2 separate regions of the Homo sapiens genome follow, and region 1 is linked to region 2. Evidence: fine-mapped expression QTL. A gene starts in region 2. The other region holds a variant in brackets. All regions are shown on one strand. Distances are from middle to middle.

Region 1 (5,379 bases), 36 kb after region 2:
GGCATTCTGTAGATTTCTACAGCTGAGAAATCCAAAAATAAACTTGAATTATGGTGGGTTTAGCACCGAGGCACTTCTGTGTAAATAGCAGAAGTGAAAAGAAAAAAAAGGCCATCTCATTTCTAGTATTTGAAACCAAGCACCCTCATCGTGTGGGCGACTCATAGTAGAGGGGGCAGGGGGAGCGAGGTTTGGCATTTTTTCTCTGCTGTTTTTGTTTTTGTTCTGTGATGATGTGGGGGACTCTCCAGGGACATCATGCGTCACAGAGCAGGGGAGAAAGGGGAGGTGAAGACAGAGCAAGTAGGGAAATTTGATCCGGTCTCTGACGTTGTAGGGCAGAATTGGGGAAAGAGGGAGTGTCGGTCAATGGGTGGAAAAGGTCCCGTGGCTGTCATGCCCTTCTTACCTCCTGCCCCGAGACACAGTTGGGCAAGTCCCTTAATTCATTTTTCAGTGAGTTTCCCAAGAAAGGCCGTCTTCCGGAACATGTGTTATTCCTGAAATACATGGCAGACTCGGTTGAAAGGGTGTGTGTTTGTGGGTCACAGAGACTCACAAAAAGAGAAGGCAAGGGGCTGGCCCGCTTGACGTGAGCCCACATGGATGGGAGTCACAGGTGATTATTATTATTATTAACAAAAGGCTTCCCTTACCTCCCCAAACCTAACTTTTCACTATTCATACCATCCATGTCTTATAGGCCCAGGGAGATGAAAAAGTGAGTTTACCCAAGGGAATTCACAAGGGCCTAAGTAGAAGAGCCAGGATTTGAACTGGCTGCCCCTTTCTCTCTATGGGGCTGGCATTGGCCATCCTAATAATGGGGGAAAAGTTGGGTTAACGACCAGCGGCCTGGGGAATTCAGGTCACCTTGATGTTTGCCCTATGGTCTTGAGTTTTGCAACTTAAAAAAACAAAAAACAAAAAACTATACACACACACACACACACACACACATTATCTATCTACCTCTATTTTTTTAAGACAAGGTCTTGCTTTGTCACCTAGGCTGGAGTGCAGTGGCACGAGCACAGCTCACTGCAGCCCTGACTTCCCATGTTCAATTGATCCTCCCACCTCAGCCTCCCAAGTAGCTGGGACTACCAGCACATGCCACCACACCTGGCTAATTTTTTTATTTTTTGTAGAGGCAGGGTTTCATTATATTGCCCAGGCTGGTAAATGGACATATTGACATTACAAGTCGATGTTGTTTTTATAGAAGGAGCAAATAATGCAAAAGGGACCAACTCATCAGTGAAAACATATCATACCATGCTTGGTGTTTGCCTTGGCTAGAAGTCTCTGGAGGTGAATTTATGGAGAATGCATTCAAGCTGCCTCCCATTCCCACTATATAGATAACGAGAGGAAGGGGTTTAAGCTGCAATAGGAGGCTGTTGGAGAGACTCAAGGAGAAGCTTCCTGACCGTAGACGGTTGATAAATATAGGAGCCACTGGAGGGTGGAAGCAATAACTTTCCAATCCCCCGAGCCTTCCAGCATTTTTTGGTGTTTGCCAAATATCATCACCTCCTACCTCTCACCAGCGCCTGGACTCAACCTTTCTAGAGCCAGCTCAAATGCCACCCCTTCAGACTTCCCAGCATTGCTGTGAGGAATCGTGGGCTTTTCTTTCCTGCTCCCAGTGTGACTTTGGTACCTTTATTTAGCATCTATATTGTCCTCCCTTGACTTAAAGCCAAGTTGTTAATTCTCCCCTTTCTTGAGTTCTTAGAGGGCAGGGATGCATTCCATTCATCTTTATCACCAACACCTAAGGTGACACCTGGCACATAGTCAGTGCTCGTTAAAGGTGTGCTGAACTTTGAAACGAAGGGTTGCCTGTTGGTGGTTGAAAACATTTTTTTTTCGAACCTTGTTAAGTTTGAAAAGTTCAATCCCCAGTGCCAACATGCATATAAATATAGGTGCTTTCATGCTCTGTTGATGGGAATGTGAACTGGTTCAACTTTTCTGGAGAGTCATTTGGTAAACATTTAGGAGAAGTCTTAGAATTTTCTATGCCTTTTGACTGAATTCTTTTTTTTTTCTTTTCTCCTAAGGAGTTAGTGAATGGCTTTTCATAAAGACATTGTATTTTTTCATAGCAATGTTTTTAAAAATTATAGCAAAAATGGGGCCAATATTAATATGAATTTGGATAAATAGTGGTTTATATGCAATAGAATGTCATGTAGCCATTACAATTGATGATATATTTGTTAATCAAATAAGTAAAGTGACAAAAACATTACAAAATAGGAAGCATAGTAGGATTTCAATTTTGAAGGAAAATAAGGCTCTATCCATGGAAAAATGCCTTGAAGGATATACGTCTAAGTGTTTCAACCCTTTTTCTCTAGGTGGTGGGATTTTAGGGGATTTTGACTTTCTTCTGTTCATTTCTCTGA[G/A]TTTTCTCAATTTTCTCCCATGTGTTACAACGAACATGCATTACATTTAGAACATAGAAAAACATTTTCCAGCATCTTGAGTTGATTCTCTAAGTAAATTCCTTGCTCCTTAAATTCTGAAAACTGTAGAGACCAGATCAACGTGTAGGATGTCAGAGGTGGAAAAGCTGTGGGAAGTCCTTTGGGCCAGAGTTTTGCAAAACTGGCTGTGCGTGAGAATCACACGTGGGGCTTTCAGAACTCTGGCTCTGCCCATACCCAGTGGCAATAAATCAAAGTCACCAGGGATGGCTGCAGGCGTCAGAGTGGTTTAAAGCTCCCAGGTGATTCTAATATGCAGCCTAGTTTGAGAACCCTGCTTTTGAGTTGTGCTGTCTAACAGTAGCCACTAGCCACACGTGGCTATTTAAATTATGCAACACTAAATAAAAAATTCAGTTCCTTAGTCAAAGTAGCCACTTTTTTCTTTCTTTTTTTTCTTTTTTTTTTCTTGAGACAGAGTGTCACTCTGTCACTCAGGCTGGAGTGCAATGGTGCGATCTTGGCTCACTGCAACCTCTGTCTCCCGGGTTCAAACAATTCTCCTGCCTCAGCCTCCCAAGTAGCTGGGACTACAGGCACCCGCCACCATGCTCGCAAAGTAGCCACATTTTAAGCACTCAGTAGTCACATGTGTGGTTAGTGGCACTATATTGGGCAGTGCAAGTTAAGATCTACCTCTCACATTTCAGGAGAGGGCTGGGCATGGTGGCTCATGCCTGCAGTCCCATCACTTTGGGAGGCTGAGGCAGGAGGGTTGCTTGAGCACAGGCATTTGAGACCAGCCTGAGCAACATGGTGAGACCCCTATCTCTACAAAAAAAAAAAAAAATTAGTCAGGCATGGTGGCACGCACCTGTAGTCCCAGCTACTTGGTAGGCTAGGGTGAGAGGATCGCTTGAGCTGGGGAGGTCAGGGCCGTAGTGAACCATGATCATGCCGCTTGCGCTTCAGCCTGGGCAACCAAGTGAGATTCTGTTTCAAAAAAATTTTTTTCTTTTTTTTTCAGGAAAGGCTTTTGCAGGTGGGTGCCCTCCTTCTAGCAGGCCTGAGGCTCAGGGAAGGGGCAGGCCTCTGTTCTTGCCTGTTTTAGGGCGGTGGAAAAGACCTCACTCGGCCGTCAGGAGAGTAATCTTGTGCCTAGAAAGTTCTTTCTGCTTTCTCGTGTCTACCCCATCCTCCTCCCTGAGCATGGTGAAGCTCAGTGCAGCATGTTTATTTTCAAAGGCTTGACAGGCCCAGGCCCTTCCTATCTGTTCAGCCTGGTCCAGGCCACCAGGCAAGCTGTTTACAAGGGATCCAAGTGCTCGGTGGAGAGCAGAACAGGCCGAGAGTGTTTTCCACGGCTGCCGAGAAAGATGAGCGAGTGGAGGCAGAATAACAAAAAGCCACTTCAAAAACACACCAGAAAAAGTCACAAAGCAGAGACAATCAGAGGTTTGAGACACACACACCCCCAAAACCCTGACAAGAGAGCGAAAACAAGTCATGAGGGAGCCTCTGATGGTTTCAAGACAGTCGCGGTTGCTGATTGAGAACAGGCCTGTCCCAGCAGTTCTCAGAGGAGTCGGGAGCTGCGGCTGTGGGGGGTCAGAAACTTCACCTGAGTTCTGAGAATTGTGGTGGGACAGTCCCTGAGGGCTCCGTCTCTCTGGGAAGATGGTGGGGGGCGGGTGAGAATGGCAGGCCCATGCTGGCTGGGTGAGAGTGTGAGGCTGTTCCAGCCTAGAGACTGGCCACCGGTCAGGAAGCAGAGTCCCACCTGGCCCCAGGCTTCTGGCACCTACTGCCTGAGAGCGTGAGGCCTCTATGGCCATAGTCCACCTGGGAATTCAAAGGCGTAAGGCCACCTGCATCTAGGAAGCTCCTTCTTTGGGATCTGAGCTGAGGACCCAACAGTGAAGAAGCCAAGCCAGAAGGGAAACGCTGGTGCTCCGCTCCACCTTGCCCCATTTTGCAGTGAAGTCCAGTGAAGAGAGCCCTGGGGGTGGAGCACTGGAGCTCAGGTCCCAGGCACTATCACTCCCTTGCTGTGTGACCTTGGGCAGGTCAGTTTACCCCTTTGGACTTTAGTTTCTTGACCTGCAAATTGGAGGGTTGGTCTAGATGAATGGCTTTCAACCCTGGCTGAATATTGGAATCACCTGGTGAGCTACAAAAATCAACATGATGCCAGTTGTTCTGGGATACACCCTGGGCATCAGCATTTTTAAAAGCTCTTCAGATGATCCCAGGCCAGGTGTGGTGGCTCACGCCTGTAATCCCAGCATTTTGGGAGGCTGAGGCGGGCGGATCATCTGAGGTCAGTTCGAGACCAGCCTGGCCAACATGGTGAAACCCTGTCTCTACTAAAAATACTAAAATTAGCCGGGTTTGGTGGCATATGCCTGTGCACGAGAATCACTTGAACCCAGGAAGCAGAGGTTGCAGTGAGCGGAGACCGTGCCACTGCACTCCAGCCTGGGTGACAGAGTGAGACCCCGTCTCAAAAAACAAAACAAAACAAAAAAAGAACCATTAGTCTGCCTAATGCTTATCAAAATTTAGAGTGCACAGGAGTCTTGTAAAAATTCGAGTGGAATTCAGAAAGTCTAGCATAGAGTCTGAGATTCCACATTTCCAACAAGCTCCCAGGCGATGTCCATGGACCACACCTTGAGTAGCAGCAAGTCTGTGTTGAATGTCCCCTTCCCTTGAACTTGCAAGTTGGATCCAAGCTCCAATCTACTCAGTCTGCTACTGTTCTTGTTTTGGTAGCTGGCTGTAGTTGCCTATTTCTGCCAATCTGCCAATAACATCATTGTTTCTAAGTTCTTTCTTTCCCCCCACCCTCTCTCACAAGAATTGTTTAAATCCTCACTCATCATTTGAATTCTAATGAGATGCTGTGGATTGAATCAAATAGGGATCTTCCCTTCAAGGG
Region 2 (5,379 bases):
TTAAATACCTCTCTGACCCAGGTTCACTATTCCCTTCTTGTCTTGCCCTTGCCCTGGTCAATGCTGTATCTTATTCTGTTGCAGTGGCTTTGTGACATATGTGTCACTCTCCCCACCAGACTGGTCATCCCTGAATCCCTCAAACAATGAGAGTTGCCTGAATGTCCGAAGCAAAGAGGAGAGATTTTTTCCAACAGCGACCCCAGGCTGCAGCGTTCCTCTCCTCCCCAGCCAAGTTTCTGGCAGGCAAGAAACTGGCCCTGAATTAGCTTCAGCATCCCCCTTTGCCACCATTTATGTCCGAGCTGTGAGGCACACATCTCTCATGGGTTCATTTTTTCCTTGCTTTGCTTTTGAGAATTATGAAAGATCTTCGGTCTCATTGCTCGAAGGTGGGGAGGGTGCCTCAGAGCTGCTCATTCAAACCGTGAAAAAGGCCAGCTCAGCCCTGCTTGGGAGTTTTCATTTTGTGTAACAGAAACCCTCCCTCCTCACCCACCTCTTGCTCCTTGCTGGGCAGATGAAGAGCAGAACAACAGATCCTCCAAGGCCCACCCACCCCATCAACGGCCCAGAGAGCCCGTTTTGAGTAAAGCTTGTCAGCGGCTTCCCCTCCTACCAGTATTTCGGGTTTGACCGTTGGGGCTCTCTCAAGTTGAGTGAAGTGGCAAGAATATCCCTTCTTCCTGGACCAGAGATTACCCTCTCTCCCTGCATCAAAGCCTAGGAGTCTAGCACCCCTAAACCTAGTCTGGGGTAAGACACTCTGCACATCTTCCCAACCCCCTGTTCAGTCATGTAGATGGCTTGAAATCAATCAGCCAGGGTGGGAGAATTTACACCATGGAAATTGGCAAGCACTACAAATTCAGGACTTTCCCTCCACCCTGGAGTCAGCTACCAGTGCTCCACCCCGGGGAGCTGCTTTTCAAATGCCCAGTAGCACACCACTGGGCACTGCTTGGTTTCCTTCCTGGAGGCCAGTATGAAAGGCTGGAGCAGGGTCTTCTGTGGGTGACGTCTGTACTGTGGGATTGTGATGGGGGGTGGTGGAGGGGGTGCAGGGGAGTGGGATTTAAGGGTAGATTGGCTGGGAAATGAGGCATTTGGAAGAGATTTTCAAAAACTAAACTCTACGGAGTTCTTGATACGGTGTATTCATTCATTCCGCAGACATTTTCTCCTCACATCCTCAAAGCACCTGAACCTGCCTTTCAGGAGTTCACAGTCAGTGGGTGGGGTGACCACTTTAACCCTTTCACAGCTGTTTGCTGGGTCCAGATCCAGCGTTCAGGGCAGGCGGGAAAGTAAGAGATGAAATCAAGGAGGCTGTGGTGTGGCGAGGAGGGGTGTGAGGACAGCACCAGGGAACCTTCACTTTTTAAAGCCAACCCTTTGCGGCTTTGAGGCCGCCGTGGTGCATTGTTTGCTGGTGAGACAAGCCATCTAGGAACCTGGTCTTCTTAGCCTCAGCCTGGTCTGACTCCACAGCTGAGATTTATAAAGGGGGCGTCTGGAGCTGGATGAACCACTCAGAACACCCTCAGTGCTTCCCCTTGACCCCTTCTAGGTTAGACCTGAGAAAGGGCTTTCTAAAGAGTAGAGTTATCTGCCGGGGCAGAGTGCGTGAGGTTTGCTCAGGGGCAGGGGCTGTGCTGAAGGCCTGGCTATGATTTCTCCAAGCTGAGTGCCCCTTGCCATCCCATTCCATGTTGCCTGCCCGTTCCTTAACTTGCAAGAGGCAACAGCAAAGCCAGATCAAAGCAGGTGGGATGTGCAGCAGAGAGAAAGCAACCAGAGCTTGCATTTGCAATGCACCGCACCATTCTCACAACCCAGTCACGTTTCATTTGCATCTCCTCATGACCCCAAGTGGACAGGTATATGAATATTTGGCAGGGGAGAAAGGTGGGAATCAGAGAGTGGGTAAAAGGTCCTAAGCTCTCTAGGGAGAATTTCTCTGTTGAAACCTGTCCCCAGAGGTCCCAGAGGGCCTAACCTATCACCCTCATGATGAGAACAGGTTCTGCCAGACCACCAAGCCCAGCCCCGCCACTCTCTTATGTCCCTGCTGTTTTAGAAAGACATGATCTCGGCCCCTCCCTTGTCCCCACTGGCACCAAAGGCTGACCCCTTCTCCAGGTCTGAAAGGGCAGGTGCACCCCTCCTGGGACAGCAGGGGGCATTCTCTGGAAGTAGCTTCCAATGCCCACCAAATCAGAACTGATTTCTCCAGGAAGCACCCCTATGCGCTCCACCCGCATCCTCCACCCCCATTCCACAGGGTCAGTCTGGGTGTCCAAGACCCTGGTACTGTTCCTTCTCACATGAAGAGGCTCACTCACCCAGGTCCATGACGCTCTCTGGGCGGTAAAACCACACAGGAAGGCTGTGCCCGGCCTCGCACTACCCCTGTCTGGGGAGGAAGTGGTTCAAGCCCCTTTTAAGTTGTCGGAGAAGCCACCCTCTTCCCTGCCCCTCCCACCCTTGCTCCTCCCCCCAGCCCTCCCTGACTCATGCAGGGCCCCTTCAATGCCTTCAGAGATAAAGGGGCAGAAGAAAGGTGACAGAGGGTGACAGTCGCTGGTCATAGGATCCTGAATCATTAGGTCATTTACATTCAAAAAGCCCCCTGCGCTGCCTGGCAGAATCTAGATGAGGGGCCATTTACTGATTCAACAAATATTTATAGCATGAATATCACATGCCAGGCCATGGGTTAGATGTTGGGGAGTCAGAGATGTGTGAGAGAAGTGTCCCCATCCTTCCCTTGCTCTGCTCAGTGTCACAGTGGAATATAGTCCCAAATGGCTTTCCCTCTGGCTTCTGGGTAGTTTAGGCCAATGGGAGGCACTGACACATAATGACAGGTAAAAGGGAAGAGATATGCCACGATGTATCTTTTTTCTCCCCCCTTCCCCTCCCCTCCCCTCCCTCCCCTTTCCCTCTTCTCCCCTCCCTTCCTTTTCCTTTCTTAATGACAGCTTTATTGAGCTATAATCCACATCCCATAAAATTTACCTTTTTAAAGTATAGAATTCAATGGTTTTTGTATGTTCACAGAGTTATGCAACCATCACCACAATACATTTTAGAACATTTTTTCTCACTCCCTCTCAAGAACCCTGTAATCACTAGCAATGACTGCTCCCCTCCCCTCCTGTCATCGAAAGCCCCTGGCAACCACAAATCTACTTTCTGGCTCTATAGATTTTCCTATTCTGAACATTTCACATAAATAGAAGTATCAATATGTGACCTTCACATCTGGCTTCTTTCAGTTAGTGTTTTCAAGGTTACCTATGTGGTGGTATGGATCCATTCCCCATTCCTTTTTATGGCTGAATAACATTCCATTGTATGGATATGCCACATTTTGTTTGTCTGTCATCAGTTGGATGTTTGGGCTGTTTTCCCTTTTAGCTATTATGAATGATGCTGCTATAAATATTTATGTGCAAGTGTTTGTGTGGACATATGCTTTATTTCTCTTGGGTATATACCTAGAAGTGAAATTGTTGAGTCATATGGTAATTATATATTTAACATTTTGACGAACTATCAAACTGTTTTCCAAAGTGACTACACCATTTTGTTCCCATCAACAATGCGTGAGGGTTCCACATTGTCAACAAAACTTACTATTGTCCATTCTTTTGATTCTAGCCATCCTAGTGGCTGTAAAGTGGTATCTCATTGTGTTTTTTTTCTTTTTTCTTTTTTTTTTTTGGAGATGGAGTCTTACTCTGTTGCACAGGCTGGAGTGCAGTGGCACGATCTTGGCTTACTGCAGTCTCCACCTCCTGGGTTCAAGTGATTCTCCTGCCTCAGCCTCCCAAGTAGCTGGGACTACAGGCACGTGCCACCATGCCTGGCTAATTTTTGTATTTTTAGTAGAAACGGGGTTTCACCATGTTGGCCAAGCTGGTCTCAAACTCCTAACCTAAGGTGATCTGCCAGCCTCGGCCTCCCAAAGTGCTGGGATTGCAGGCATGAGCCACCATGCCCGGCCTCTTTGTAGTTTTGATATGCGTTTTCCTAATGACTACCTATGCTGAGCATCTTTTCATGCTCTTATTGACCATTTGTATTATTTTTTGAGAAATTTCTATTCAAATCCTTTGCCCATTTAAAAAATTGGGTTATTTATTTTTTATTATTGAGTTGTAAGACTTCTTTATATATTCTGGTTACAATCCCTTATCTGATACATATCTGTAAATATTTTCTCCCTTACTATGGATCATCTTTTCACTTTCTTGATAGCGTCCTTTGAAGCACAAAGGCTTTTTGTTTTTTAAAACCTGAATCTCTGGCAAAAGAAGCGCAAAGTTTTAAATGTGGAGGTTCAATTGATTTATTTTTCTTTTGTCAATTGTGTCTTTGGTGCCATATCTAAGAAACCATTGCATAATTCAAGTATACAAAGATTTATTCGTATATGTTCTTTTAAGACTTTTATAGTTTTAGCTGCAACATTTAGATCTGATCCATTTTGAGCTAATTGTTGCATATGGTGTGAGGTAGGGATCCAGCTTCATTTTTTATATGGATATCTAGTTTTCCCAGCATCATTTGTTGAAAAGACTATTTTTTCCACCATTGAACTGTCTTAGCACCTCTGTTGGAAATCAATTCATCATAAATGTAATGGTTTATTTCTAGACTATCAATTCTATTTTATCAATCTCTGTGTCTGTCCTATGACAGTACCACACTGTCTCGATTACTGTAGCTTTATAGCAAATTTTGAAATTGGGAGTTGTGACTGCTCCAACTTTATCTGTCTTTTTAAACATTGTTTGACTAATCTGCATCTCTCTCTTTTCCATATGAATTTTAGGTTATCAATTTCTGCAATGAAACCAGCTGGGATTCTAATAGGAATTTCATTGAATCTGTAAATCAATTTAGGGAGTATTGCCATTCTAACAAAGTCTTTTGGTCCATGAACATGGGATTTTTTTCATTTATTTAGGTCTTCCTTAATTTCTTTATACTTTTTAGGCTGCAAGTCTTTCACTTCTTTGTTAAATTTTTTCTTAAGTATTTTACTCTTTTTGATGTGCTTGTAAATGAAATTGTTTTCTTAATTTTATTTTCAAAGATGGCCAACTAGAAGCAGGTATGGGGCATGGCTCTCTCAGAGAGGAACAAAGGGGTGGGTACTTCAAAACCTTTATCTGAAACATCCAGATACTTGCATTGGGACTGATTAAGGAATCAGCTCGACCCACAGAGGATAGAGGAAAGCAGGGCAGGGCAATGGCCTACATAGGAGCAACACAGACCCAAAGGAAACCCCCTCCCCTCCCCCCACCAGGGAAGTGGTGAGTGAATGTGCAAACCTGGGGAATGATGCTTCTCCCACCGATCTTT

Evidence for each region. PIP is the estimated chance that this variant, and not a neighbour inherited with it, causes the effect.
Region 1: its variant is the best candidate, but not a certain one, in a credible set for the expression of CCR7 in whole blood (TOPMed, PIP 0.60).

Annotation. Positions count from the first base shown.
Region 1 is chr17:40,599,090-40,604,468 of GRCh38, forward strand. No RefSeq gene overlaps it. Among named protein-coding and RNA genes, the nearest start is that of CCR7, 36 kb to the left of the region's middle. RefSeq lists enhancers at 10-309, 3,648-3,907. The variant G/A (reference allele first, on the strand shown) is at 2,418.
Region 2 is chr17:40,563,055-40,568,433 of GRCh38, forward strand. It overlaps CCR7 (C-C motif chemokine receptor 7), which reads right to left and starts at 2,418. Exons shown (of 3, transcript NM_001838.4): 1 at 2,346-2,418. The coding sequence starts at 2,355. RefSeq lists an enhancer at 1,057-1,973.